3 separate regions of the Homo sapiens genome follow, and all the other regions are reported to be linked to region 2. Evidence: microRNA targets listed by miRTarBase, many of them from high-throughput screens and not tested one by one. Region 2 holds a microRNA gene; each other region holds the end of a gene's coding sequence.
Evidence for each region. The annotated mature microRNA hsa-miR-133a-3p reads UUUGGUCCCCUUCAACCAGCUG and lies in region 2 at 8,150-8,171, opposite strand. An mRNA with a match to its seed (bases 2 to 7 or 8) in the 3' UTR can be bound and repressed. Matches are read on the target gene's strand: a 7mer-m8 pairs with bases 2 to 8, a 7mer-A1 pairs with bases 2 to 7 and ends in A, and an 8mer does both.

Region 1: miRTarBase lists CCDC39 as a target of hsa-miR-133a-3p. The part of its 3' UTR that is shown has no 7-base or 8-base seed match.
Region 3: the mRNA of ZBTB37 is a reported target of hsa-miR-133a-3p. The part of its 3' UTR that is shown has no 7-base or 8-base seed match.

Annotation. Positions count from the first base shown.
Region 1 is chr3:180,610,597-180,615,809 of GRCh38, forward strand. It overlaps CCDC39 (coiled-coil domain 39 molecular ruler complex subunit), which reads right to left. Exons shown (of 20, transcript NM_181426.2): 20 at 3,412-4,481. The coding sequence ends at 4,325. TTC14 (tetratricopeptide repeat domain 14) reads left to right here. Exons shown (of 12, transcript NM_133462.4): 12 at 1-534. Among named protein-coding and RNA genes, the nearest start is that of TTC14, 11 kb to the left of the region's middle.
Region 2 is chr18:21,817,563-21,828,671 of GRCh38, forward strand. MIR133A1 (microRNA 133a-1) reads right to left here and starts at 8,223; the gene lies at 8,136-8,223. It overlaps MIB1 (MIB E3 ubiquitin protein ligase 1), which reads left to right. Exons shown (of 21, transcript NM_020774.4): 12 at 1,933-2,084. It overlaps MIR133A1HG (MIR133A1 host gene), which reads right to left. Exons shown (of 3, transcript NR_110369.1): 3 at 7,917-11,109. It overlaps LOC124904362 (small nucleolar RNA SNORA73 family), which reads left to right and starts at 62; the gene lies at 62-266.
Region 3 is chr1:173,882,755-173,893,863 of GRCh38, forward strand. ZBTB37 (zinc finger and BTB domain containing 37) reads left to right here. Exons shown (of 5, transcript NM_001122770.3): 5 at 2,882-11,109. The coding sequence ends at 3,370. Among named protein-coding and RNA genes, the nearest start is that of ZBTB37, 20 kb to the left of the region's middle.

The DNA of each region.
Region 1 (5,213 bases), not on the chromosome of region 2:
TTGTATTAGTCATAACAGTTGAGTGCAGAAATCTCTGCTTCTAAAATTATTTGTAGAGATTACAGGAAACAAATGCTTTTAAGTAAGTTTTTCTCAAATTTTGTTTCAGTTCTAGGTCCCTTGTCACAGCTTGGTTTTTAGACTTTTTATGTATATGTTTATGTACAGTATATTACTCTTGACAGTTTGAATTTCTTCACCTAAAGATAATTCTCTGAAAGTACTGTTTCTTCATTCTATTGCGGTATATGAGAATTCCTGGGTGCATCTTATTCTGCTGTTTGAGAGAAAAATTTGTGCATTGAACACTTGGATCATTTTTATAAAAATTAATTTCATTTTCTTTTCTGTTAAATTAAAAATCGTCAGCTTTTGAAAGATTATATGTTCGAATGTTTCTTGAACACTTTTATATTTATCAGTTTAAATATTACATTTTTTGCCCAATTTTTTTTAAAATTTTTAAATGGTAGATTATATGTCTTAATTTTCCTCTAAAGCCCAATTTGATTAAAAGTGGTTTGTGAACAGTCATTGGCTTCCACCCAGCATAAGTGCCTTAGGAATAAGATCATAAAAGTTGAATAGGAGCCCATTTTGCTTATTTCTCCATTATTTTTTACCTCATTGCTAGCATAGCCATAAAAAGCTTTTTAACTTTAAATATTTACAAGGCCCTTAGGGCCTGTATTCCACGCAAGGGTAAATCAGAAAAGAAAAAAATCCTTTTAGCAAAAACATAGCAGTAGCAGAGAAGCACATTGTAAATCTGGCTTTTCTTTAGGGAAAGAAAATTGGGAGACTCTCCTAGTGTAGCAGATGTTCAGTCCAGAAGGCACTAGGCATGTCGTTAAATCTGACCTGCATTTCTTCTTACCACCTCCTGTGCCTTGATGCTTCTCTGATGACCCCTTTCTCAGAGTCTGAATAAATAACTAGACCAACTAGAGCCTGGTTTTACTAAGAATAATAAATTCCAGCAGCTAGAGCTGAAGAACAAAGAGACTTGGATTATAAAGATCCTCCCCAAATTGCTGAAAATAGTGTGGTATATTCTTTGGGAGACAGATAGAGATAGGAGTCATAGGTACTGGGTTTATGATGTCATTAGAGTTTGCAGTTTAAGATTCTCAAAGCTGTAAATTACAATGGACTTTAGATACTGTCACACACAATGACACTAGATAAGTGGGTGGGTAGCTGAGGATCTACAGAGGTCTAAGTGAGGGAGAATAATAGAGGAAGAAGAGACTTATTCCTTGTTCTGTCTTGCAGTTCTTGCCAACAGTAAAATGTCCAGGCCTTAAGTACTGGGTGTGTATTATCTGTGTCTATCAAACTCCAGTAATGAGAGCCTAGTGAAAAATCTGAAATTTCTTTTGCAAATGGAACAGTGAAAAGAAACCCTGGTCAAGAGCAATAGATAATGGTGATAGAAATCGGCTAGTCACTCAAAGCATTAGTCTTTGCACCAAGAAGAAGCTTCTTTAAGAAATTCATCTTAAAAAGAGTCCTTAATAATTCTATGTATTAATAGCTCCAGTATCATCTTTACAAAGTCGTGTTTATAAAGAAAGAGTGAAAACTACTTCTTGGCATACATAGCCTTTGACCTTTTGGAATCCCTAGTTCAGCTTAAAATTTTAAACACAACATTTAAAAAATTTTTTTTTCCTTAATTAATTCATATAAATTTAAGGGGTACACATGCATTTTTGTTACATGGATCTATCGTGTAGTGGTGAAGTCTGGGCTTCTAGTGTAACCATCACCCAAATGATGTACATTGTACCCATTTCATAATTTATCATCCCTTACCCCCCTGCCAACCTACCAGCATTGGCGTAGGCAGAATTCATGATTCAGACCTCAAAAGTGGAAGCAAGAGGGGCTGAGTACAGTCACTCATGCCTGTAATCCCAGCACTTGAGGCTGAGGGAGGAGGATTGCTTGAGGCTAGAAATTTGAGACTGGCCTGGGCAACGCAGCATGACTCCATCCAAATAAGTTGGGTGTGGTGGTGCATGCCTATAGTCCCAGCTATGCGGGAGGATCGCTTGAGCCCAGGAGTTCGAGGCTGCAGTGAGCTCTGATTGTGCCACTGCACTCCAACTTGGGTGACAGCCAGACTGGTGTCTTAAACACAACAAAAACAAAATGGGACTTAAGTAAGCTACGAAGTTCTTGCACAGCAAAAGAAATAACACAGTGAACAGACAACCTGCAGAATGGGACAAAATGTGCAAACTATGCATCAGGCAGGGGACTCATCCAGAATTTACAAGGAATTCAGCAAACCAAATCACCCTATCCAAAAGTGAGCAGAAAACATGAATAGGTATTTTTCAAAAGAAGAGATAAAAATGGCCAAGAAGCGTATGAAATAATACTCAACATCACTAATTAGAGAAATGCAAATTAAAACCAAATGAGATATCTCTCATCAGTCAGAATGGCTATTACACCCCATTCAATGTAAGAGAATAGTACCTTATCCTGTAGGCTGCCTGAATTTATTAGGTAGGCGCAAAAGTAATTGCAGTTTATGCCATATTAAGCAGAGTATACAAACCAATTTCTAAGGAAGTTCATCACAGCAAAAATTATTGGGGATTTACATTGTCAAGAATAGCGACATCTTCAGTAATTTTTCTCAAGATCATATATTGCCATATCTTGGTCTCCATAAGCAGATGAAGCATGACTTTTGGATATGAGGATAAGTGTCCAGATTTGGAGATAGGTTGATCCCCTGTCGCACCATTTGTCATTACTACACTGAAGTTGTTAGAACTGTTATTTAAGGATTAAATGTAGATTCGTATGCTGGCCCAAGAACCAAACCATTCCACAAATTCTGTGCTAAGCTCCAGGTGGCAACTCAGTAAGTAGAAGTTATATAGTGCAATTTCTGTGTGTCAAGCCCTGTGCATCTTTTTTATATTATCAAATTCGGTAAACTTGTAGGTAACTTTCTGTGTCTATAGTACAAATGAGGAAAACAGGGAAGTAACTATCCAAGGTTACAGAGCTAGTAAGATACAACCTCTACCTTCATAGAAGAGTGTTTAATATTACTTCAAGTTTTAAGTAATTCCCAAACTAGCACAGGGCTGAGAATAAGAACTTTGATGAGCAAAGTGACTTTAATTAGTTTTTAGGTCTTATAAATCTCATGCATTAGAGCAGTACTTTAGCCAAAAATTTTATTACCTACCTTTTTTTTCGCCCACCTTATTCTTGACTTTGCTATGCCTTTTTCCTATTTCTAAAACAAAACAAAAAATAATCAGGAGAACTATTCACTACCACTACTGCTTTTCAGAAAGAAGTACAAACAACAGTTCTAAAATAATGACAGTTGTAATGAGCATTTTTTCCCAAGGTTTGAAGGAGACACATGTACATTCGTGAATTCTAATACATTTATTTAAAATCCAGTTTTATAATATTCCACACTCTATTCCAAGAGTACAAAGTGTTGGGCACATGTTATAATGAAGTGTTAACTGGAAAAACTACTACATTTGGCAGTCTACCTCCAACTGTAAATGAAATTTCTATTGCAAATCAAGTCATACCTAGCTTTCATTAAATCGTTTATTAAATCAAGAAAATTTCAAAATTGTTTATACTTGGTTGGCTGTATCTGAAAGCAAATCTTTAATGCGTTTATTTCAAGGTCAGAAGTGATTTATTTCAAGGTCAGAAGTGATTTTTCTAAATTTATGCTGCATTTTAAAATTGATATACAGTGTTTCTCTTACCGGTTTTTTTTTGGGGGGGTGGGGTGGGTAGGGGTTGATGCTATTTTTTGGTTAAAAATTATAGCAAAAGAAGAAACTGCCTTTAACAATTTTTCTCCCCAAAAGTCTGAGAAATAGTTACTTTGAATAAAGAAAACCTAATTTTGGTGTCTTGTAGGGTAAATGAGATTTTCACATTGCAATACGCTCATAATAGTACAGTAAATCTTTAGAAATTTCTTCTTGAAAGATTGTTACATTAGAAGTGAGTGTAGTTTCGTGAAATAATGAAGCAAACTATTTTCTAACACTACGAACATCAGAATTACAGTGAAATACAGCATTTTTCCTATGCTTGTATAACATGTAGCCTTGTCAAGAATCTGCTATTAATTTCTTCAGTATGAAGAAAACAGTAGAGAAAATGAGAACGTTCCTTTTTTTTTAAAACTATCAGTTTTTACACTTACCACTAAGTTTTTACACTTTCCACTAGATAAAATGTGTTGGGTCGTTTTGTATTTTAAAGTATATTTTTGTTTTTGTGTTTACAACTTTTTCAGAAGAGATTAAAATGTTTATTTGCTGCTCTTTTTGCTCTTAACATTACTAGAGCTACTACTAGCACTAGATGGCCTAGAAGGGCTGCCTACTAGTGAAGAGGAGGCCGGGAATTTAAGCTCCAGTACTTTAATTGAAGACTGAGAAGTAGATGTACTTGTACTCCTAGATGACCTAGAAGAAAAACCAGAATTATAAATTCAATGCAAAGTTTATATTTTAGTATAGACCCTCTCATTATTGGCAAAAGGTACCATAATTCCATAAGTAAAGACATCAAAAAAGTACATATTAATAGTGTTAAGTTTTTAAATGACCATCAATAGATATCAAACAATTTAAACAGGAAAGGAAAGATGAACATAGATGAGTTTCAAACCAGTAGAAAAGTAGTTTAATAAGTATGTTCCTACATGGTAAAAATGCTTTGAACTATAATCAGTTTTTTAGAGTTGGAATCATTAAGCATTGAAAGTTTCCAAAACAGAGGAAATAGGGCCAAGAGGATTTGGTGCTGGCAAAAATAATTAAAATGATACCTTTTGTAATTTAAGCTGAAGAGAAGAGAGAAGCATATTGATGGATAAAGTGGTGGGGTCATTTGAAAAACAGCTAGCTATATAATTCTGAAAAAAGTTTTAAATATATATTTTATGAAAGTACAGGGATGTTCAGTTATATAGAAACAGTTTTTTATACTTAAATGAAACACTTTTTTTAGGGGCCTCTTCATGAAATTTTTACCTGGACTAAGGAATAGTAATTTAATAAGTAGCTGCTGAATGCAGGAGATTGTGAATTCTAAAATCAGGATCATTATTAATAAATTTTTGTCAGCAAAGCACAAGAATGTTTGCTTAAGCATCTGGTGATAGAATTCTGGGTAACAACTGCAGAAGAAAAAAA
Region 2 (11,109 bases):
TACATAAATGAATGGGTGTGGCTGTGTTCCAATAAAACTTAATTTACAAAAACAGGTGGCTCCAATGTGTAATATCCTGGGATATCATTTTTTCTAGGCTTTGTCCACATGGCTTAGGGGAGCATAGGGCTCTGCCCCATGATGTACAGTCCCTTTCCTCAGTGTTGGAGATGAAGCTGGGTCTGGTGTTTGCACTTTCATATTCCTGTAGCTTCTCAGAATCCTGTGGACAGTGACTGGGGAGACAAACCATGCAGGAAATATGTCTAGTAAAAAAGAATAAAACAAACAAAAAACAAGTGGCAAACTGAATTTGGCAACTGTAGTATATGCTGTAGGCCAGGTTGTATATGACTTTACTGAGAATAGCATCTGTTCAACTATGAAATGAATGAAATTTAAATTATTCATGTCTGTACATGACTGCTAATGAATAAAAACTTACTGCTAAGTCAATTGATTAATGTAAAAAGTAGTCAGCTTGAAAAAATGGTAGACTGAGATTGCTAAATTTTAATTTACAATTGTTTTACCTTTGGCTAACTAGCCACTTTGCTGCCCTTTGAAAACGCTTAGATTAATGTTTCTCACCTGTGACTGCACAAGATGTTCATCTGTGGAGCTTTGAAAAATTACTCATGCCTCACTCTCACCTCTAGAGATTTAGTATGGTGAACAGCCTGGACATCAGATTTTTTTTTCTCTTTTTTTTCCTCTGTACAACAGATTTTAAAAGATCTCCCCAGCAGGTTCTAATGAGCAGCCAAGTTTGAAAGCCACCGACTTTCAATTCATTGTTATGGTGTAGGTTTGGTATGGAATTTCAGGGTATGACAATTAAGGCCATTTTAAACTTATAAAATTTGGGGGGCAGCTTTATCACTTCACTGGTTTTTGTCATTAGTTATATTTGAGGCTACTTCTTTTCTTTTCTTTTTGCTTTGTAAAGCTTCAGCATGTGCCAGGAGTGGTGGCTTATGCCTGTAATCCCAACACCTTGAGAGGCTCATGTGGGAGGATCACTTGAGCACAGGAGTTCAAGACCAGCATGGGCAACATACTGAGACCCCCATCTCTACAAAAAAAGAACTTTGCCGGGCAAGGTGGCTCACGCCTGTAATCCCAGCACTGTGGGAGGCTGAGGTGGGCAGATCACGAGGTCAGGAGTCTGAGACCAGCCTGGCCAACGTGGTGAAACCCCGTCTCTACTAAAAATACAAAAATTAGCTGGGCATGGTGGTGGGTGCCTGTAATCCCAGTTACTTGGGAGGCTGAGGCAGGAGAATCGCTTGAAACCGGAAAGTGGAGGTTGCAGTGAGCTGAGATCGCGCTATTGTACTCCAGCCTGAGTGAAAGAGCGAAACTTGGTCTCAAAAAAAAGAAAAAAAAATTCCAGCATGCTTATTTTGTTTTCCAACTAGATTTGAGTATGTCTTTCCTTACTATAATGTGGCCAGTGTTTCTTGCCTGTATTTTTGTTTTTTATATTTTTGGAGATAGAGTCTCGCTCTGTCACCCTGGCTGGAGTGCAGTGGCATGATCATAGCTCACTGGAGCCTTGAACTCCTGGGCTCAAGCCATTCTTCTGCCTCAGCCTCCTGAGTACCTAGGACTATAGGTGCACACCGCCGTGCCCGGCTAATTTTTAAAATTTTTTGTAGGGACAAGGTCTCTATATGTTGCCCAGGTTGGTGTTGAACTCCTGGCCTCTGCTGATCCTCCCGCCTCAGCCTCCCAAAGTGCTAGGGTTACAGACATGAGCCAGCATGCCCAGCCTTTGCCTATATTTTTGTAGTTATCACAGAAAGTGCTCTTTTATTGGTATTTGTTGGATGTGGTCTCTGCTTCTGTTTGCTTAGCATTTGGTGTAAGTATTACTATTAGATGGGATAATTAATTGAAGAACTAATGAAAATTTCTTTAAACTTAAAGGATTCTGAAGGTGATACCCCTCTTCATGATGCAATAAGTAAGAAACGTGATGATATCCTAGCAGTTCTTTTGGAAGCTGGAGCAGATGTTACCATCACAAACAATAATGGATTTAATGCTCTGCATCATGCTGCACTAAGGGGAAATCCCAGGTATGTCACCCCTTACTATTTTAGGTGCAATTCAAAAATATTTTCCTACTGTTGATTCTCTTTTTCTGATACTGATGAAGAAATAATTTTGGCTATTTTAGTATTTTAAATCATTTTAAAGTTTTGTGAATATTATGCCTTTAGTTTTATATGATGATTATTTGGTTGTTAATCTAATACAAATATTATGAAATGATTATTTAAGTTTATATTAAATGTGGTTGTAAAATATCAGGAATACTAGTTTCTTTCTAAAGATTTAATTAAAATGCATTTTATTTTGAGATTTATGTTTCTTCAAAATAATTATCTGGGTGTCCTCTAATTTCATGTTGCCATTTGCACGATAATTATTTTTTAAAACTTAAGACTAAATAAATACTAAGTTACCTAATTCCTTATTAATAATGTAATTAGTTATATAAACTTCTAGTATAGCTATCCCCTCATCCATTGTTACAGCAATAGTATTCTACTGAAAAAAGTATTTGCTGGTTGACATTTGAGAAAGACTCCTTTTGGAGAATCACATTCTTTATGAAGGATCTGCGGTGTCCCACAGAATGGGAAAATGCTTAGCTTTGCTTAATTTAGAGATTTCCATTAACTCACTTTTTGGAACAACTTTACCCTAAGCATTTTAGGAAATTCTGCATTGGATGTCTTCTGTTTATGTTTGAGTCAAACCTGTATACCTGGACTAAGAAAAATCTTCACTTTGATTTTTATTTTGATAATTTTATCTATTCTGAACACTTATTCTTTGGTTCCTTATTGTATTTTTATATCATGTTTCCTTTAGCTTCTTAGGATCACCACTAGAGGGTGACCACAGGAAACAAAAGGATTTTATTGCTACTGCTTATTGGTAACTGTAACAGTGGGTATATATTGTAGGACAAAATGAATGATCATATTTTAGATCACATCTTGATTTTTTTTCCAAATTGCAAATATTTGAACACTTCAGATTTTGGCATTGTGAAGAAGACAGTAGTATTATATTTCCCTGCCCTTCAAACAGAAGATTATGATAGCACTTTCCACATGCCAGCCTCTGCAAAGTGCTTCACATGCATCATCTCACTTAATCCTTTCAACAGCTTTTTGGGGCAGGTGTTAATATCCTCATTTTACACGTGAAGAATATGAGGCTTATAGAGATGAATTTAATTATTCAAGAACACGTAGCTGATTACTGAAGCAGCTGTAACTTGAGCAAGGTCTAGGTGACTTTAGAATCATAACTGTTAAACCACTTTACATCACCTTTTCTGTATTATGGTCTGTCTGTGAAGCAAGACCAAAACACATGGGCAGTGAATGTGTCAATACCTCATTCCTCTTGCTGCTTCATTGCTTAGAGTTATCTTTGCTCTCTCACCAATTCTTAGCTTCCAACTAGTTTTAAAATTTTACTCATTCTACCAATCCTTCCAACCCATTCCATTCTGTTCCCACTGTTGCTGACCCAATTAAGTACTCACCACATTTACCTAGACTATTATACTATTCTTCTAATTTTTTTCTTTGATTTCAGTCTTTTTCTTGATTTAAATTTTATACATTTACAAATTATCCATTCTGAAAGCATAGGTCTAAATGGCTCTCTTCCCCTGTTTCCCAACTTCAGTTTTTGTCTGTTAACATAGAATACAATCTACACACTTTGGCTTGGCATTCAGACCCATATTCTGTGTGTCCTGAGTCTGTTTAACTTTATCTCCTGCTAATCCAATCCCTCAGCCCGCTTTGCCCATCGTCTATTCTCCTTTCCTAAAATATGCTGTCTGCTTTCTTCTTCTATTTTTTGGAGCATTTTCTTTCTTTGGGATGCCCCATCCCGCTTCTTTATCTTAACCGTCTTTCTTCCAGAGCTACCTCCTGTGTCATCACTGGAATTATTTTGTTTGCTCTATACTTCCTTGTTCTGTGTGTGTTTTTTTTGTTTTTTTTGTTTTTTTTTTTTTGAGGCAGAGTCTTGCTCTGTCACCCAGGCTGGAGTGCAGTGGCACAATCTCGGCTCACTGCAAGCTCTGCCTCCTGGGTTCACGCCATTCTCCTGCCTCAGCCTCCCGAGTAGCTGGGACTACAGGCTCCCACCACCATGCCCGGCTAATTTTTTTTGTATTTTTTAGTAGAGACGGGGTTTCACGACGTTAGCCAGGATGGTCTCGATCTCCTGACCTCGTGATCCGCCTGTCTCGGCCTCCCAAAGTGCTGGGATTACAGGCGTGAGCCACCGCGCCCTTCCTCTGTGTTCTTATTTATTATACTTACTATATACTCTGCTTAGTGCTGTTTATTACTATGTGCACTTCTGTCTTTCTCTTTACATTGTGGGCATTCATATTCATCTGTTCATCCTACATATGCTCTGGCTATACAAGGCACTCAATAAATGTTAGTCTTACTTTGACAGTGAGCACACTGTTAAATATCACAAGATGTTATATGATCAATTACAAAATGAATTCTGTAGAGAAACTGTGTTAGGAATTCAAACAGCAATTACTTCAGATTACAATGGTCAAAAAGATTTTATTGAGAGAATTTAGGATTTATTGAGGGAATATGAAATCATAAAGTTTAGTATAAACTGAGAATTGAAGTGCTTAGGAAACAAGTATCTTTTAAATATTTTGAGTTGTTTCATTTTTATTGAGAGTAGGCATAGTATATTCAATAATGCTAAGCCTATACAAGGAAGAGAAAATTTACTTTTATTTTTTTCAATTCTTGCATAAATCTTGAGGGTTCCCCTGAAAATTTAAAACAGCACCTCTTCCAACCAGATATTTGGTGTCAGGTGACATTTAAAAAAAAATGCTTTTATTCTTTAACAAAGTAGTGCTTCAGTTAAAGCTACATGCCTTCTTTATTCCTACTTCCTTAAGACATTTTTAGGTAGTTGTGACTATAGATTGCCAGATAGAGTGTGATTTTAATTGGACACTGAAGAGTATCAGATGACACAGCTTATATTACCAGTTGTAATTGCAAATTGGGATGTTTTGAATTCTTTTTTTCATATCAAATTTCTTTTTCTTAAGGTTGATTTTTCCCCCCCTATACTGTCCAGTGATGTCAGAAGACAGAAGGTGCCATTTTTAGTGTACTCGGAATTAAAAATAACAACCAGTCTTTTTGGCCTTTATACTATAGAAAACCAGCAGGGTGTGGTGATTTACATTTGTAATCCCAGCGACTTAGGAGGCTGAGGCAGGAGGATTGCTTGAAGCCAGGAGCTTGAGATCAACCTGGGCAATGTAGCAAGACCCTGTCTCTAAAAAATTAAAAAATTAGGCTGGGCGTGGTGGCTCATGCCTATAATCCCAGCACTTTGGGAGGCCAACTCAGGCAGATCACTTGAGGCTAGGAGTTTGAGACCAGCCTGGCCAACATTGTGAAATGCTGTCTCTACTAAAAATACAAAAATCAGCTGGGTGTAGTGGTGCGCACCTGTAGTTCCAGCTACTCGGGAGGCTGAGACATGAGAATCACCTGAACCCAGGAAGCAGAGGTTGTAGTGAGCTGAGATTGCACCACTGCACTCTAGTCTGGGTTACAGATCAAGACTGTATCAAAAAAAAAAAAAAAAAGAATCAGCTGGGTGTGGCATCACAGACTTTTAGTCTCAGCTACTTGGGAGGCTGAGGCGAGAATATTGCTCGAGCCTAGGAGTTTGAGACTGCAGTGAGGTATGATCGTGCCACTGCACTACAGCCTGAGCAACATAGCAAGACCCTGTCTCTAAAAAAAAAAAAAAAGAAAGAAAAGAAAAGAAAACCAGATATAGCACGTTGTTATTTCCAGAACCTGATGAAGTGTCTAGATGTCCTATATTTTTGAAGACTGTCCTTTGAAGTCTCTATTTCAAAGGTGCAGATCAATATGAGTCTAGATTTCAAAGCTGATCTTGATGTTTTCTCATAGTATGATAGTAACTGAAACACATTAAGAGAAAAGAGTTACAAAGCCATTTATTGTTGTCTTTTAGAATTGTGGAAGGGAATATAAATTTTCACTATGAGACCCTGAGTACTTTGGTTGTGCTTTATAAAGTTTGGAGCATTTTAAGTAGAAATTACACCATGTTTTAATACAGTTTTGTTTTTTTTGAGAAATCTTAACTAAGAACAATGCTGTTTGTCTGTTCTGATAGTTAATATTTATAGGCATGTTTTCATCTAGAGTTTAGCCATATTTATCATCTCTTAGTATATAGGTAAAATTTTGGATTTAAAGTAAGAGTAGAAATTATTTCTGCTGATAAAAGTGAAAACTGAATTTCTTTGGAGTAGCATAATCAGCATGTTACTTAGGTACTTTCTGTAAAGATGCTGCATTTTTAGCTGTTTTTAGAGCTCCCTTACAGGCATGAAAATAAATTAGTCAGCAGTATTCTCTGCAGAGCTGGCAAAAACAATCGATAGGTATTTTGGAAGTACAGGTAACAATAATATAATTATAAAGTTTATATAGTATTTACGAATTTTTCTTGAATAGAAATTGAATGTGAAAAGTAAACGTAAAATATGAGTGAATCACCTGATGTGATATATGTTGTTTTTAGGTTGGTACTAAGATAATTTCACAGGCGTTTCTTATTTGCTTACTAATTCCCACAAAGACACATATTACAAATCTTACTGAATATGTGAGCAACTCATAGTTTTCCTTCTCGAATGTTGTGATGCTTTTTTTACTTTTTAAATTCTGAAATATGGTCTGTAAACAAGACTATGTTGGCTATTTGAAGATTTGATAAGCTGTACTGTATTTTGGTGTTTAATGCTTTCCTTACAACTGTAAACATGCTGAGTGCTATCTACAAAATATAGCTGAGTCTATTCGGTAATAGGATACTTAGAGTGTGTTTTCTCTAATGTATGCTCATGCATCTACTCTCAAACACCATATTCCTTGTAATACACAAATGTACTTTCTGTGACTGAGGTGTAATTAATAGGAGGAAGAAGATCTTGAATGAAGTGATAAGATATATATTTATATATGTCTCCTTTTGCCCACAGTCTTTTAGAGAATGATGTTCATTTTGAAATGGAGGAGTGGTCAGGAGTTGAGAATGTGTGAACATCTGGGTCTTTAAACTACTCTTGTCTTCAGTAATCTTCATTAATTGCTGAAATGTTTGTCTCTATTAAATAATATTAAATTATCTATAGTTTTATTGCAATCATTAAGAAAATTATACGGATGTTAGAGTAATTGTCACTTTTTTTCTTTACTTCAGTTTATCCCCACTGAAGGAGAATATTGTGTGTATATTTTTTATAAGGGACAAAGAAGACAGTGAGGAGAGTCATAGTATTTATTGTTAGCAGAGTTCTTCATTTTACAGCTGTGAAAACAAATATGGAGAGGTGAAATATTTCATGAGTAAAAGTAGTGATGCTTAGCATTTTCTTTCTTTTTTGAAGACTAAAAACCTTTGATTCAGGGTCAGAAGAACTAGATAACTGTTTTAAGCCTCTCCACAAGATATTCTACAGTTATCATCTTTTTCACCTTACCTGCTAACATTCAGGTAAATAGCGGTAAAATTAAAGGCCAATACTATGGAAGATAGTGACTAAACATTTCTAGAGTGTTATATAATGTTACAGTTTTCTTTAATTTAAATATGCACACATCCATGTAAACCACACTGTACAATCCCATTATGTGTTCAGGTGGGTTTTAGGTGACCTTTCCAGATATTTTCTTCCTTTGAAGGAAGTTTTTGTTGTTGTTGTTATTATGAAGCATAGCCTACATTTTATTACCAGTTCTTTTCTTTTCTGAAGGATAAGAAATTTAATACCAAGAGACCATAATAAGTAAAATTTTTATTTGAAATCCTTAAGTCATCCATACATTTTTCATAAAGCTTTTTATAAACATCTTTAACCATTCTAGCTTTTCCAGGTAGAATTAACAGTAACAAGTTATTTGATTATAATCACAGTCTGCATAATGTAAATAAGTTGAAATTAGTTGGCAAGTAATTGATATTCACAAATGAAAACGTTGGTTGTCCCGTAGTAATCAATGCATAGCTACAGCTGGTTGAAGGGGACCAAATCCATTGAAGAGGCGATTTGGTTCCATTTTACCAGCTCTAGCAAAGCATTGTAGTGCTGCTAGTTTGGAATCCAAAACAGTTAAATGCTTTTCATTGGTAAAATTACAGTCATGGACCTTCTACAAGTGTTAGAAATTATCATACCAATGCTTCAGTCACTGAATGTCAAATTTTCCATTTTGAAGTCACTTTCCTACTGTTTTCCTGCGCTTAATGGTTTAAAAATCTTTTCCTTTTAACACATTACTGCATTAAGGAATGATCAATGTACGTCTTTGTTTTCAACATCTTTGCTTCTTTTTCTTTTTCTAATCTTGTCCACAGCCGAAGTCTTTGCTTAATTCTTACATGTAGACAATAAGCTATTTCAAAACCAATAGTATTTAAAGGAACAAATAGACCTTGATGTATTTTAGAGTAATGTTTTCCATTTATCTCTAGGCAGCAAACCAGATAAATAGTTAAGCTAAAAGGTTGGGGAAGAGTTCAGTTAGTCACCCCCTTCTACTGCCACTGCTTCTTTTAGCATTATAGTTGAGGGCTAATAGCAAATTGTTGATGGGTGTAGGAATATCAGTGGCCTTAAGAAAGTACCTCTGCCCTTTGATTTATAAATAGATCACATGTGTATTCAGTGTATTGCTTGGACTTGTGTCGAAAGGAACTACCATGCATGCCAGTTTTTCTTTGTTTTTGCTTACGTGGTGTTACTAATCATAGCTTAGTAATTTAACCCTTTTAAAGGTCTATTTCCTTGACTAAGTTCTTTGTCATTTTGGGTACAGATTGCCAAGTTACTTCTCATTATCGCCTTAGTAATACATGGTGGTTAGTTACAATCCATGGATACAAGTATTAAAATCTATTGTGTGGATAATACTTGAAAAATCAGAGTAAATTTTTGTTATAATGTGGTTTTACTGTTGATTTCAATGTCTTGAGAGGGGTGTCTTCTTGCATAAAATAAAAGTTTGATAAATTATAATTTGCCTATAAAGTTAAGTGCTCTCAGAGAAATATAGAGTAGAGAAATATTCTTTACAGTTACTATTTTAAACTGAGAGGTCAACGCTAATTCAGGCAGTATGCAAATGACTCTTACACTAAGTATATTCTGCGTCTGTTGGTTGGTAAGTATCATACTGCTGGTGAAATTAACTACAATTCTTTTTCATCATTTTTTCTAGTAGAAGTGAAACAGGTGTTAAACTGCCTAAACTTAAGTGCTGAAGATAGCAATAATACTGGCTTCTATTTTTACTAGTTATATGGGAGCTGTTTAGCAGATCCAGTTGCTCAAGTGTGTTTTTGGATGGCAGTTCAGTTTCATATACTGGCCATATCGGGGCAAGGAGAGGCCATGGGAAAAAAATAGTACAGCATTTGATAATGTCAGCATCTGTTATCCCTGTCAGGGAGACAGTTGAAATGTTTGAGTTATACCAGTGTCAGCAGATGCCCAGAGTTTAATATGTACTCAGTTAAAAATGAACAGCTGATCTAAGTGATAGATGTGACATTTTAGAGTGATTGAAAATACTCTTAGATAAGTTAAACTCGCAAGCACCAGAATCAGCATATAATTTTACTTTTAAAAATGAATAGCCTGTCATTTTATTTTCTAAGGATTATTTATATAGTCTTAATATTATAGCAAAGAGAGTCTTAGTTGCTAGGATGTTTGAGAAGGATTATTAAACAACTTGTATACCTATAGAATGACCAATATAACTGTTTATTATAAAACACAAGTAGAGTAATAAGCTTTGAGTATTTTTATAGAAGAACCTCTACTTTTGAGGTATATATTTTGAGTTCTTGGTATTTAGGACCTATACAGGTAAACTTACCAAATAGAACATGAATCATTGCCATTCTGTTTTGTGGATGATCAGAAGGGCTATGCTTATGTGAGTTAAGCTTTGAACTAATTTCTTTGAAAGTGTAGAATTTTAAAATTATGTGCCTTTTATAATTTCCAGTAAACATGCAGTAACACATATGATGCCATGTGTAAGTCATTCTCATTCTTTATAATCTGATAAAATGAAAATCATCTTTGTATTAACTAGTCTTATTAAACAGAAAATGAACTATAGTTAAACTTAGTCATTTCCATTCAATTTCTGATACAAAAAATTTAAAATATTATGCTTTTATACATGTGTAAATATTTCAGTTGAAATAATACTTTTAGTAAGAAATGGTTAGAATATGTGAATATTACTCTTATTTTCTAACTTTGTCATTAGTAGCTTAAAACAGGTACTGCTTATAAATTTTGCTAAGAGCATTATTTGGAATTTTTTATAAATAATATACAAACTGTGTGAAATAAAAGTATTTTGATATTTCTAAACAATGGATTGATCAAGTTTAGAGAAATTGAATTGTAATTGCATAGTACAATAAAAACAGTTCTTCGATCTGTATAAATTGGTTCTTGACTATAGTGCTTTCATTTTACATGCCCTCTTTGGAGAAAGCAAATTCGAAGATAATACAGATAAATTAATTTCTTTTAAATATTTGGTAGTCTGTTACCAATATACCCTGCTGACTTACAGCTGTGGACCAGAATTTTGTCATTTTTCATGCTTAAATCTTACATTTTAATTAATTTTAAGTTTTAACTTCACATTTAAAGTAGAGATTTGGGTTAAGACCCTGATAAACTTGAGAAGGAAGGACAAGGGCCACTATGTTTGTAGCTGTCAAAAAAGAAAGCCTTTTTAAAACAACAAAACTTTTGGTCAGAAATTCCTCTAATATTAATTATACATTTATCAAAATGAGAAGAAATAGCTTATTATGTGAATGAAGCCAGCTCTTAGTATCTTATTTTTCTGTACAAATCAGTGAGCCCTACTAATGAGATATACTTAAGATTAAATTGTGGAGACAGAAAATAGGTCATGTGTATTCCTCATTCTTTTG
Region 3 (11,109 bases), not on the chromosome of region 2:
ATAAGGTGTAAGGAAGGGATCCAGTTTCAGCTTTCTACATAAGGCTAGCCAGTTTTCCCAGCACCATTTATTAAATAGGAAATCCTTTCAGAGTTAGGGAGATTTCTTAGGGTATTGTTACCCTCAAGATTATAAATAATATGAATTTGTAATGTTTAATAATAGCTAACATTTATTCAGTACTTTAGTGTATTAACTCATTCAATGCTCAAAGCAACTAGTGAGGCAAATGCTATTACTATATTCACTTTACAGGTGAGGAAACTGAGGAATAGAAGTGTTAACTAACCTGCTCCAAGTCACACAATAAATAGAACTCAGATTTGAACACAGGTTCCAGCATCTTTAATTGCTATGTAATATTATGCATTCATCGCATAATATTTTGGGACCATTGAAGGTCCTAAAAGTTACCATTGTATTTAGAAAAAAGAGTACTGTTGGCTGGGCCTGGTGGCTCAAGCCTGTAATCCCAGCACTTTGGGAGGCCAAGGCGGGCAGATCACCTGAGGTCGGGAGTTCGAGATCAGCCTGACCAACACAGAGAAACGCCATCTCTACTGAAAATACAAAAAATTAGCCAGGCATGGTGGTGCGTTCTGTAATTCCGGCTACTCAGGAGGCTGAGGCAGGAGAATTGCTTGAACCCGGGAGGCGGAGGTTGTGATGAGCCGAGATTGCACTCCAGCCTGGGCAAAAAGAGCGAAACTCCGTCTCAAAAAAAAGAAAAGTGTACTGTTATCATGTTCAATTCTCGTGAGAATCCTCTAAAGCTGGCAAATCATGTGATAACCTTTGTACCTTATGGATGAGAAGACAGCCTTAGAGAAGTTATTCTGTTTTGTCCCTGGTCACCCAAGACCTTTAGTGGGATGATTCCTCATTCTTTATGTGAACTCAGTTTTTTTTATCCAGGGAAATGAAGCAGAAAGAAATATTAATATGAAACAAATAAAATAATCTTAAAACCTCAGTCTTAGTATTCAACCCTTGACTTTACATACTGCTTCCCAAACCTGTTGAGAACTGCCTCTATTGGAAAGGCTGAATAGCACCATCAGCATAGGAAGGGACAAAACACATTTTTAGAAATTAAAAGGGCACAAGATCTTCTATAGTGTCTATCTTAGGGGAAAAAGTACCGGCACAATATTAATTGCTAACTAGATGAATCTTGCTCCAGTTACTCCAGAGTCAACTTTGACATTTTCTTCTCTTTGCATTGGTACTTTATTCTTTGTTAAACATATAATTCCCTCCTACATATTTAAAAAGGTTTTTATTCCTCTAATATAATGACTTCAGAAGTCAGTCATTATTAACTCAGGTTAAAAAAATAATTTCTGATTGATTTTTTTAATACAGAATTTTGAACAAAAAGCATTTCTAAATCCAAAGATTTTTTTTTTTTTTTTGAGGTGGGGTCTTGCTTTGTCACCCAGCCTGGAGTGCAGTGGCCTGATGACAGCTTATTGCAGCCTTGGCTTCCCAGGCTCAAATGATCCTCACACCTCAGCCTTCCCAAGGAGCTGGGACTACATGTGCGCACCTCCACACCCAGCTAATTTTTTATTGTTATTTTTTGTACAGGTGGGGTCTTGCTATATTGCCCAGGCTGGTCTCAAACTCCTAGGCTCAAGTTATTCTCCCACCTCAGCCTCCCAAAGTGCTGGGATTATAGGCATAAGCCACCACATCTGGCCTTAAATCCAAGATTTTTAAGTAATTTATTGAAAGGAATATGTTCATACTGCCTCCCAGTTTTCGGATAAAAGAAACCCATGCCCTCAGACAATTTACTCTGAAGTCAGTTAAACTTTAGTAGTCTTTAGAGTGAAAATAATATGTTCATATGATACTGAAATATTTTACATAAAAAGGAATATTGTCACCTACAAATTGTATACATTTTTATAAAGCTAGCTACTGCTAGATTAAAATGTGGTATTAATGATAATGTCACAATTTATAATATGTTGCCATTATATATTCTATACTATCTGATATAGTAAATGGTAGCCATTAGCCACTTGTCACATGTGGCTATTTAAATTTAAATTGTAATTAACTGAAAGCACTTAAAATTGTAAAAATTACTCAGTTGTATTAGCCATATTACAAATACTCAATAGCAACAGGTGGCTAGTGGCTACTGTAATGAATGGGGTAGAGCATTTTCATCATCATTGATAGTTCTGGCTGGGCGTCGTGGCTTACACGTGTAATCCTGGCACTTTGGGAGATCGAGGTGGGTAGATTGCCAAAGTCCAGGAATTCAGAACCAGCCTGGGCAACATGGCAAAGCCTCGTCTCTGCAAAAAGTACAAAAATTATCTGGGAGTGGTGGTGCGTGCTGGTGGTCCCAGCTACTCAGGAGGCTGAGGTGGGAGGATCATCTGATCCTGAGGAGGTCTAGGCTGTAGTGAGCCGTGATCACACCACTGCACTCCAGCCTGAGTGAGAGACCCTGTCTCAAAACAAAAACAAAAACAGATAGTTCTGTTAGACCAGCACTGCCTAAGTATTTGATTGTCTAGAATATAATTGTAAGATTAGGATCCAGGGTATAGTATAAGTGGGCTCAGTTTCTCCTCACATTACTGTAAAATAGTACATTCAGCAGGGGTTTAATAAGCATCCAGTTTGTCAGCCAGAAAGTAACTTTACTGTGTTGTTCTTTTATAGTAATGGAATAGAGTAGTCTCAATTTTTTAAAAATTATTATGGTAATATCTTTACTTTTTGGTAATAATTTTCTGTTTGATCCGCCACTAAAAAGGTACATATATCTTAGTAACAAGTAAAAATAGATTTGATTGCTTTTAATATGTATGCTTAATAATATTTGTTCTTTCTTGGTTATTTTCCTTACCTGGTACAGGTAGAAGAGTCAGCAATGATGGGAGTAAGTGGCTATGTGGAGTATCTCCGAGAGCAGGAAGTATCTGAGCGGTGGTTCCGGTACAACCCTCGTCTCACCTGCATCTATTGCGCCAAATCTTTCAACCAGAAGGGAAGCCTGGACCGCCACATGCGCCTACACATGGGGATCACACCATTCGTCTGCCGCATGTGTGGCAAGAAGTATACCCGGAAAGATCAGCTGGAGTATCATATCCGCAAGCACACAGGCAACAAGCCCTTTCACTGTCATGTCTGTGGCAAAAGTTTCCCCTTCCAGGCCATCTTGAATCAGCACTTTCGCAAAAACCACCCTGGCTGTATACCCCTGGAGGGGCCTCACAGCATCTCCCCTGAAACAACTGTCACATCTCGAGGACAAGCTGAGGAAGAGTCACCTTCACAGGAAGAGACAGTTGCTCCTGGGGAAGCTGTCCAGGGCTCTGTGTCCACCACTGGGCCAGACTGAAACATCCAGGGGGAGGGGGCTGACCCTCTTCCCCTATGAGCCATAAGCAGCCAGCATCAGAGCCATGGGCTGATACTTAGATTCACAAAATGCCACATCACTAGGCCAGAAGATGCTCCCAAGATGTTGCCAAACTGGAGGATCAGCAACTTACACAAAAGCACTAAAGGCTCCTCCCTTCTTATTGCCCGCCTCACACTTTGGAAAATAATCAAGCAAATCAACTTTCTAATTCAGGGATCAACAGCCTTGGTTTGTTAACTTTATAAGAAAAAAGGTTTTTTAACAAAACGATGATGATAAATGGTCATTTATCTATCAGTCATGTTTGAACACTGTACTTTGGTCCATATCATCTTGGTGGCTATAATTGCCCGGATCTAAAAAATGCAGCAGGAGCCTCAACCATCCGAAGCAGCCAACCGCAAGAGAGGAGGTAGTCATGATGGTGATGAGGAGGAGAAATTTCTCCTCTTCCTTCCCTGGCATAACATGCATTTTTGTGTTTCAAGAAAAAAATGAATACTGGTGGTTCTTATTTTGAAAGGTTAGGCTTTATCTTTCCCCTGACTAGGCATCTAATACTTTGCCTGGTTATTTCATATAATCAGCCATCTTGAAGCAGTATTCTAGTGGACAACATCACCTGAAGCACTTGGCAACTGGGAGTGAAATGAGCAGCAAAGTGTATGCAATAGGTACTGCTACATTTGGGGGGCTTGAGTGTTGTGTTGAGGAAGAGGAGAGCAGGGAGGGAAGTGTTTTTATGTTTTGCAAATATCAAACAGCACAGAGCCGTTCTGCAACTTCCTGACTGGTATTTGTAAACCATAGTGCTACACATCCTTGGGTAATGGCTCTAGTTCAGGTGAATTAATGTGTTAGGCTGACTACCAAAGTTTCATCTAGTCTCTTTGGCTCCTATTTTCACGTTCAGCAATATTGTAATCAAAAATGTCACTTTCCAGTGAAATGAGCCTGGATTGTATTTTTAAATCCACAGGTCTCCATATTTGATAACTTTTATATGAAGTTTTAAACATGTTTTTTCTGCAGTATTGTGGTTGAAGAAATTCAACACTATGGTTCTTACTGCAACCACAATTTCATTTCCTTATACATATGTAATAGTTTATATTTTCAGGCATATAGAAGGACCTCACTTAAAACTATGTCTCGGGTCTGCAAACCTAGTAATTCATAAACCAACCATCAGCAAACCATAGCTGGTGACTCCAAGAGCTTTGCTTTTTAATAATATACTACAGGGCACTTATCAGAAAACATCATGCAGAATCATGTTGCAATAAATGATCAAAGGATCAATTTTGGTCAGGTTTGGTTACTTAGTCATTCCTAAGATTTTTAAAACTTCAAGGGACCCTTTTAGTAATTCTGGGTATTTCTAAGATTCTTAATCCAGCACTGAGAGAAAGAACTTAGCAAACATGTAGAGCTTTGGATACCCCGTCTTTCATGAAGTGAGAGAAGGAGGAATATTAAGGGATGCCGGCAAATAGATGCTTATAACTTACAGTGCAAGTTGAAAAATCTCTAGCTTCTGTTGACGGAGCACTAGTTGTTGGGGTTCTTTTAAGTATGTAATGGTTTAAGAAATTGTTTCAGTGCAGAGGCATAGATGACTGTAAAAGAGATTTGGCAGAGGGACAGGTTGTACCTGCACTGGTGAACCATCTGTGAGAATGTTAGTCATGTGCTCCTTTCCTGAGATTGCTTTGTGGTATGTGAAAAGGTGGGTAGAAAAGAAAGAAATCTCTTTGAGATAAGAAATTAGAATGCAAAGGGTAGATCTTAAGCAATCTGAGAATTGTACATGTACATAAAGCTGCACCCTCTCACAAGAGAAAGGTTATTTTATCTTCTGAAAAAGCATAGAAATGCATCTTTTATGGGAAGATAATGATGCTACCATTTAATAAGAGCCTACCCTTAAAGGCAGCATTGAAACTGTATTTTGTCTTTAGAAGACATAGACTGGTGCATCCTCCGCTTTAGTTAGACAACAGCATGATAAGGAAAAAACTGTCTTCTAAAGCCATCTTTAGGGACTGGCTGTGCTCTGTGGCATAGAAAAGGTAAAGTTGAATTAGCCAAAAATCCTTAGGGAAACAACTGGTAATAAGGTTTTCAGTGGACAGATTTTGTCATTACTAAATAGGCAGTGAGGTGAGAAGTACAGATTATGCTGCTTTGGATGGAGCCTTTAAGCCTACCAAAAAACTTTTAAGTCCATCCTACTTTTGAGAAATAGTATGCTAGAAAGTTCTGTTTTTCTTTTTCTTCTTTTTTATATTTTTTAGAGACTGTGTCTTCCTCTTGTCACCCAAACCAGAGTGCAGTGGTGCAATCATAGCTCACTGTAATCTTGAACTCCTAGGCTCAAGTGATTGACCTGCCTCAGCCTCCAGGTAGCTAGGACTATAGGCATGCACCACCATGTCTAGCTAATTTTTAAATTTTTTTGTAGAGACGGTGTCTCTACAAAATTTGCCTAGGTTGGTCTTGAACTCCTGGCCTCAAGTAATCCTACCACCTTGACCTCCCGAAGTGCTAGGATTACAGGCATGAGCCAGTGAACTTGGCCTGGAGAAAGAATTCTTTGTTGCTTTGTTAGTTTCTTAGATTATATGTGAGAAAATGGAGCTTTTTAAACTATTACCAAATTTTAAAGGTGAAGTGCAGTAATTTCTGTAAAGAGAAACTTTGCAGCATTTGTCAATTCTCCTTCCAGGGTTAGCAACAAACAAATGAGGTAGGGACTATCTCATTCATGTGGAAATGCTATGAATGTTTGGTGGGTTTCCCCTCCCTTTTCTTTTCATTCACTTTAAATAGCCTTTTCCTATATTGATACTGTGAATAGGGTGCTTCCTGGTCATCTAGGACCACTTTAGCACAATCATGTTTGCTGGTTCTCTCAATTGGCCTAGCCAGAGCCACAAAATTCATGAAAATTTAAGGCAGGCTAGCTTTTAAACAAATTAAAACTTCTGAAAACAATTTCAGCTTTTTCGTTAAAAGAGATGTTGTTATTCTAAATAACTGTCCAAGACTCTTACCCACATACACTGTGACATTGTCCTAGTTCTTAGCTAACAACACATTGGTCATAGGAGTTACTGATGTTCTATCTACATTAATGAACAGCTATTGGTGTATGCACAGAGGATACCTCTTAAGGATGTACTAAATGGACTTTGTTTGGTTGATGCTGAAAATTAATTACCAAATCTTAACTTGCACGTGTTACCTTGTGAAGGGAACTGCATTAGCAATGAGAGCTACATCATCATGAAGTACTTTAATGCCATGAAATTGCAAACACTGGGACTGTTTTCATTTATTGAGTGGCACTTAGTAGCAAAGGAGCTATCCAGTATTCTCAGCAAAGAAGAGAGACGGAAGTATATTAATCTATTTTCATACTAAGATGTTCCTTTATTCTGTCTGAACTCTAATACCAGTATAAAATATAGCATTGGCATGAACAGTTAATGCTGTACTTAGGCAGAAAGGCTCCTTCTAATGACTTGTTCTCTCTTTACTCAGAACCGTATTTACCTCTGAACCAAGTTGAATTTTATTTTATCCAAGTTGCAAACTACCCCATGCCATTTTTATTATAATAGAGGGTTAAATCTAATCTCAAATACATAAAGGTAAATTAGTTCATAGAGGATAAAGTTTGGGAATGAAGAGAGCAGTTAAGGAAAATTTTATTTTTTGTCATTTTTTAAATGTTTCCAGTTCCCTCTACATCAGTGAAACAGGGTTTTCCAAAGATGGTTTGAAGATAGAAAAAACTTTTTCCCCCCGACTTCATAGTTGACATCTGGTATTGGTTGGAATTGGTCTGGTGGCAGAGTGAAGTAGGGAACTTCATTTTTTTCTTTTTTTTCTTAAAGGCAGGGTCTCACTATGTTGCCCAGGCTGGTCTCAAACTCCTGGGCTCAAGTGGTCCTCCTTCCTCAGCCTCCTGAGGAGCTGGGACTACAGGCGTGTGACCACACCTGGCTGTAAATGTCATTCTTAATAGCTGAATAATCTTTGGTCAAGAAGTAACTTTTCCAGAGTTTTAGCTGTTACTTGACATTAATTGGGTTTCTTTTAACTGGTGAAAACTGTATTTATTTTGTTTGACCAGACTGTCTAACTTAAATGAAAGCAATGGATAATGGAAAGGAAACTGAACAAAGACAAAAGTCTTCTTCATCATAGTGAAAGGCATTTAATCAGGAAGAGTTGGAATCCTGGAAGTTTTTCTTTTTTTCAGGTACAAGAGGCATGATTTTTTTCTCTTCCTAAAATGTCCTTCCCCTTATCTGTGTACTTATTAGTTCAAGGAATAACAAATGAGTCTTAATTGAACTTAGTCTTTGGAAATTGAGCTCTTTATTTAGGTTATATGTGAAAGAGTTTAAAATATTGAAATACTTTGGTTGCTAAGCAGATTTAGAAAAGCAACAAGCAATTGTCGGGCAAATCCCTAGGTTTGAGAAGATGTCCTCAGCAAAATATACCCTTAGGACTTACGGAATTAGATCAGGGTTCAGCAAACAGTAGTTTCCAGGCCAAATGCTGAGGCTACTTGCTTGTGTAAAGAAAATTATAATGGAATAGGGCCACACTTACTTGTTTAGGTATTGTTTATGCCTTCTTTCTACTACAATGGCAAAGTTGAGTACTTGTGACAAAGATCACGTGGCTACAAAGCTTGAAAATATTTACTGTCTGGTACTTGTTAGAAAAAATTTGCCAACTCCAAGAAAGAATTACCTCCTAAAGTTGTTACTCATGACATTTTGCCTTTATAATAGTTTGGTTGAAGTTTTAAATTCATGTTGTCACATATACATGTTTTCTTGAAAGAGTTTGCCAACTTTTTCTAGATCCTCTTATCATAACTCTTTTTGTGCTCCTTCATGATTTTTTTGTGCTCCTTCATGATTCCCATTACTTTAAAAGCATTTAGAATTGGCCTGTTGTTTGTCCTTGTCTTAATGGTGCCGGTATTTTAAAGTTTAGTTGTAAGTAAGTTTTGCCATTCCTCTGAGTTAACTTGAACTGGTTTGCATAATGGTGACAAGAATGAATTTTTTCCCAAGTGGATTAAAAACTAATTTCATTATGAAGAAGTATTTTGATTCATATCCAAAGTACTGTTTTTCTGGATTAGAACCCCTACCTTTTCCCTTTGCAATGTATCTTAATTTTAACTTCTTTAAACTTACTCTGTTCCATGTAGAGCAGTAAAAAGCCAAGTTTTTCTTCCTTTTTTCCTGGATGTTTTGAAACATAATGAAACATCTGAGGATTTCAAATTCTTTTTAGACCTATCTTCCCATTTCTGTTATTGTCTATAATTCTTCTAAATACATATTGGACCATTAACATGTTTGCTTTGTGAATGTTCATTCTTAGTGTTCAGATAGCCTACTTATACTCGATGTGGGAAAAATGGGAAATGTTAGGGGGTTCATAAACAGAAATCCTTGCAGGAAGCCGGGTGTGACAGCAGACACCTATAATCCCAGCTACTTGGGAGACTGAGCTGAGAGGCCCACTTGAGGCCAGGAATTTAAGGACCAGCCTGGGCAACATAGACCTTATCTCTAAAACAAAAAAAAATCCTTGCAAGAAGAGAGAATAATTGCTTCCCATTTGGAAATGATATAGGGACTTTTGAATTAGATCTATCTTGACAAAGTTTTCTAGGCCATGCTGATACAGTATAGGGAGTTTGAATCTGTTGTGAGCGCTGTCAACATAGACAAAGTTCAAGTGAGTAACTAGCTTTCTATAATAGGGACTCTCTTCACTAGGTATTTTAAAGTTGCTGCTTTCTAATTGGATATTAGGAAGTTTTATATGATATACCCTCTGAGTAATAGATAATCCTCATCTATAAAGTTCCAGAATATTTGCCTAGGTTAGATCTCCCCTGGCTTAGAGCAGTTATACCTATAGTAACAGTAGGTTTTTGAGATTTTGGAGTATTACTTTTCTGATTAACCTAGGATTCTGATTAACCTGGAAGGTGGGACTTGTGAAAGAAATTGGATTTTGTTAGCCCAGTGAATCATCTGCATCCCACTCTATTTGAGGTCTTGGTAATAGATGTCAATTTAAATATGCATCTATTGAAAGCAATGGAGTTTTCCAAGCATTATGACTTCCTTGATAATTTTCAGTCTTATCTTTTTTCGTATTTTCTAGTCTCTTTCCCTGTCTTTAGTCTTCTTCCTCTTAAATGGTGCTTTTCCCAGGGCCAGTCTTTCTACTTTCTAAGCAAGCAGGCTTTTTTGTTCAGGATAAGCCAGAGTTAGATATTATGAATACTTTGAAACATCTGAATATGTTACATTCCAAAGTATGTAATTATTGATAGTAGTATCAAAACCTGGAAGATATTGGTGCAGATTATTCAGTTTTGCTGTGTAGGCAGGCTGTCTTTCTCCTCAACTGTGACACAGCAGTGACTTGAGAAGGCAAATATTACTTGAAACCCCCATTATCTTTATAGAGGGTACGTATATAAATTTTCTTACCTGACATTTTTACCATTATCAATATATCAGTAGCTCACATCTTAACATAGAAGAAGCCCATTAGCTCAAATACTGGAAACTTCAAACAAGGAAATAAATTACAAAAGCAAAGCAGTTAATGAAAAAAACTTGTCTATTGCCTGCGTCTTTCATGTCTACTCAATAGGTCCTGTTGAGGAGGCTAGAATACACCATCCGGTTAAGAAAGGGGTTGTTTTGTTTTGTTTAAGACAGAGTCTTGGTCTGTCTTCCAGGCTGGAGTGCAGTGGCTCAATCTTGGCTCACTGCAATCTCCACCTCCTTGGTTCAAGCAATTCTTGTGCCTCAGCCTCCCAAATAGCTGAGATTACAGGCGTGTGCCACCATGCCCAGCTAATTTTTGTATTTTTAGTAGAGATGGGGTTTCACCATGTTGGCCAGGCTGGTCGTGAACTCCTGGCCTCAATTGATCCTCCTGCTTCGGCCTCCCAAAGTGCTGGACTTAGAGGCATGAACCACTGCACCCAGCCCCATTTAAGAGAGTTTTATATTCAGCATCTCATATGGCCTACACCATGATTTTAATATACTGTGAATCTTAGGATTTCAGTTAATCCATAATGCCAGGAGTTAAGGTATTTCATGGGAACATGTTTCCTCTTCTATGAAATCACCTGTCTGCAGTGATAGGTAATGTATAAGAGAATGTTTCATTAAGTAAATATTAAGTACTTTTTGATACCAGACAACATGCTTGGGATTTGTATAATAAAACTGGTTTTAGACATAGTTTAGACATGATGTGTCTTCCTATACTTGAGAGTCCTAAGCCCACTTGGTTGGCGTCTGGGATGTATTGCTTTTGAAAAGCCTGCACTTTTTACTGTAGAGATAAAAGATCAAAAAGGGGACAGAATTAGCTTTATTAAGTGCTTTATCGTCATAACTGTGGTTAAGACAATAATACTATGAGGTAATAACAGTAATGTTAAAAATAACTAACTTTTTTTGAATGCTTACTATGTGCCAGGCACAGTTCTATGTGCTTCACATTGATTAACTCATCTAATCCTTATGACAATCCCATGAGGGTAGATAACATCCTCATTTTAGATGGGAAGAAACAGACACAACTGACTCAGGCTAACACTAGAGTTGCCTCTAGTAGGTGTAATTATATCATATTTTATA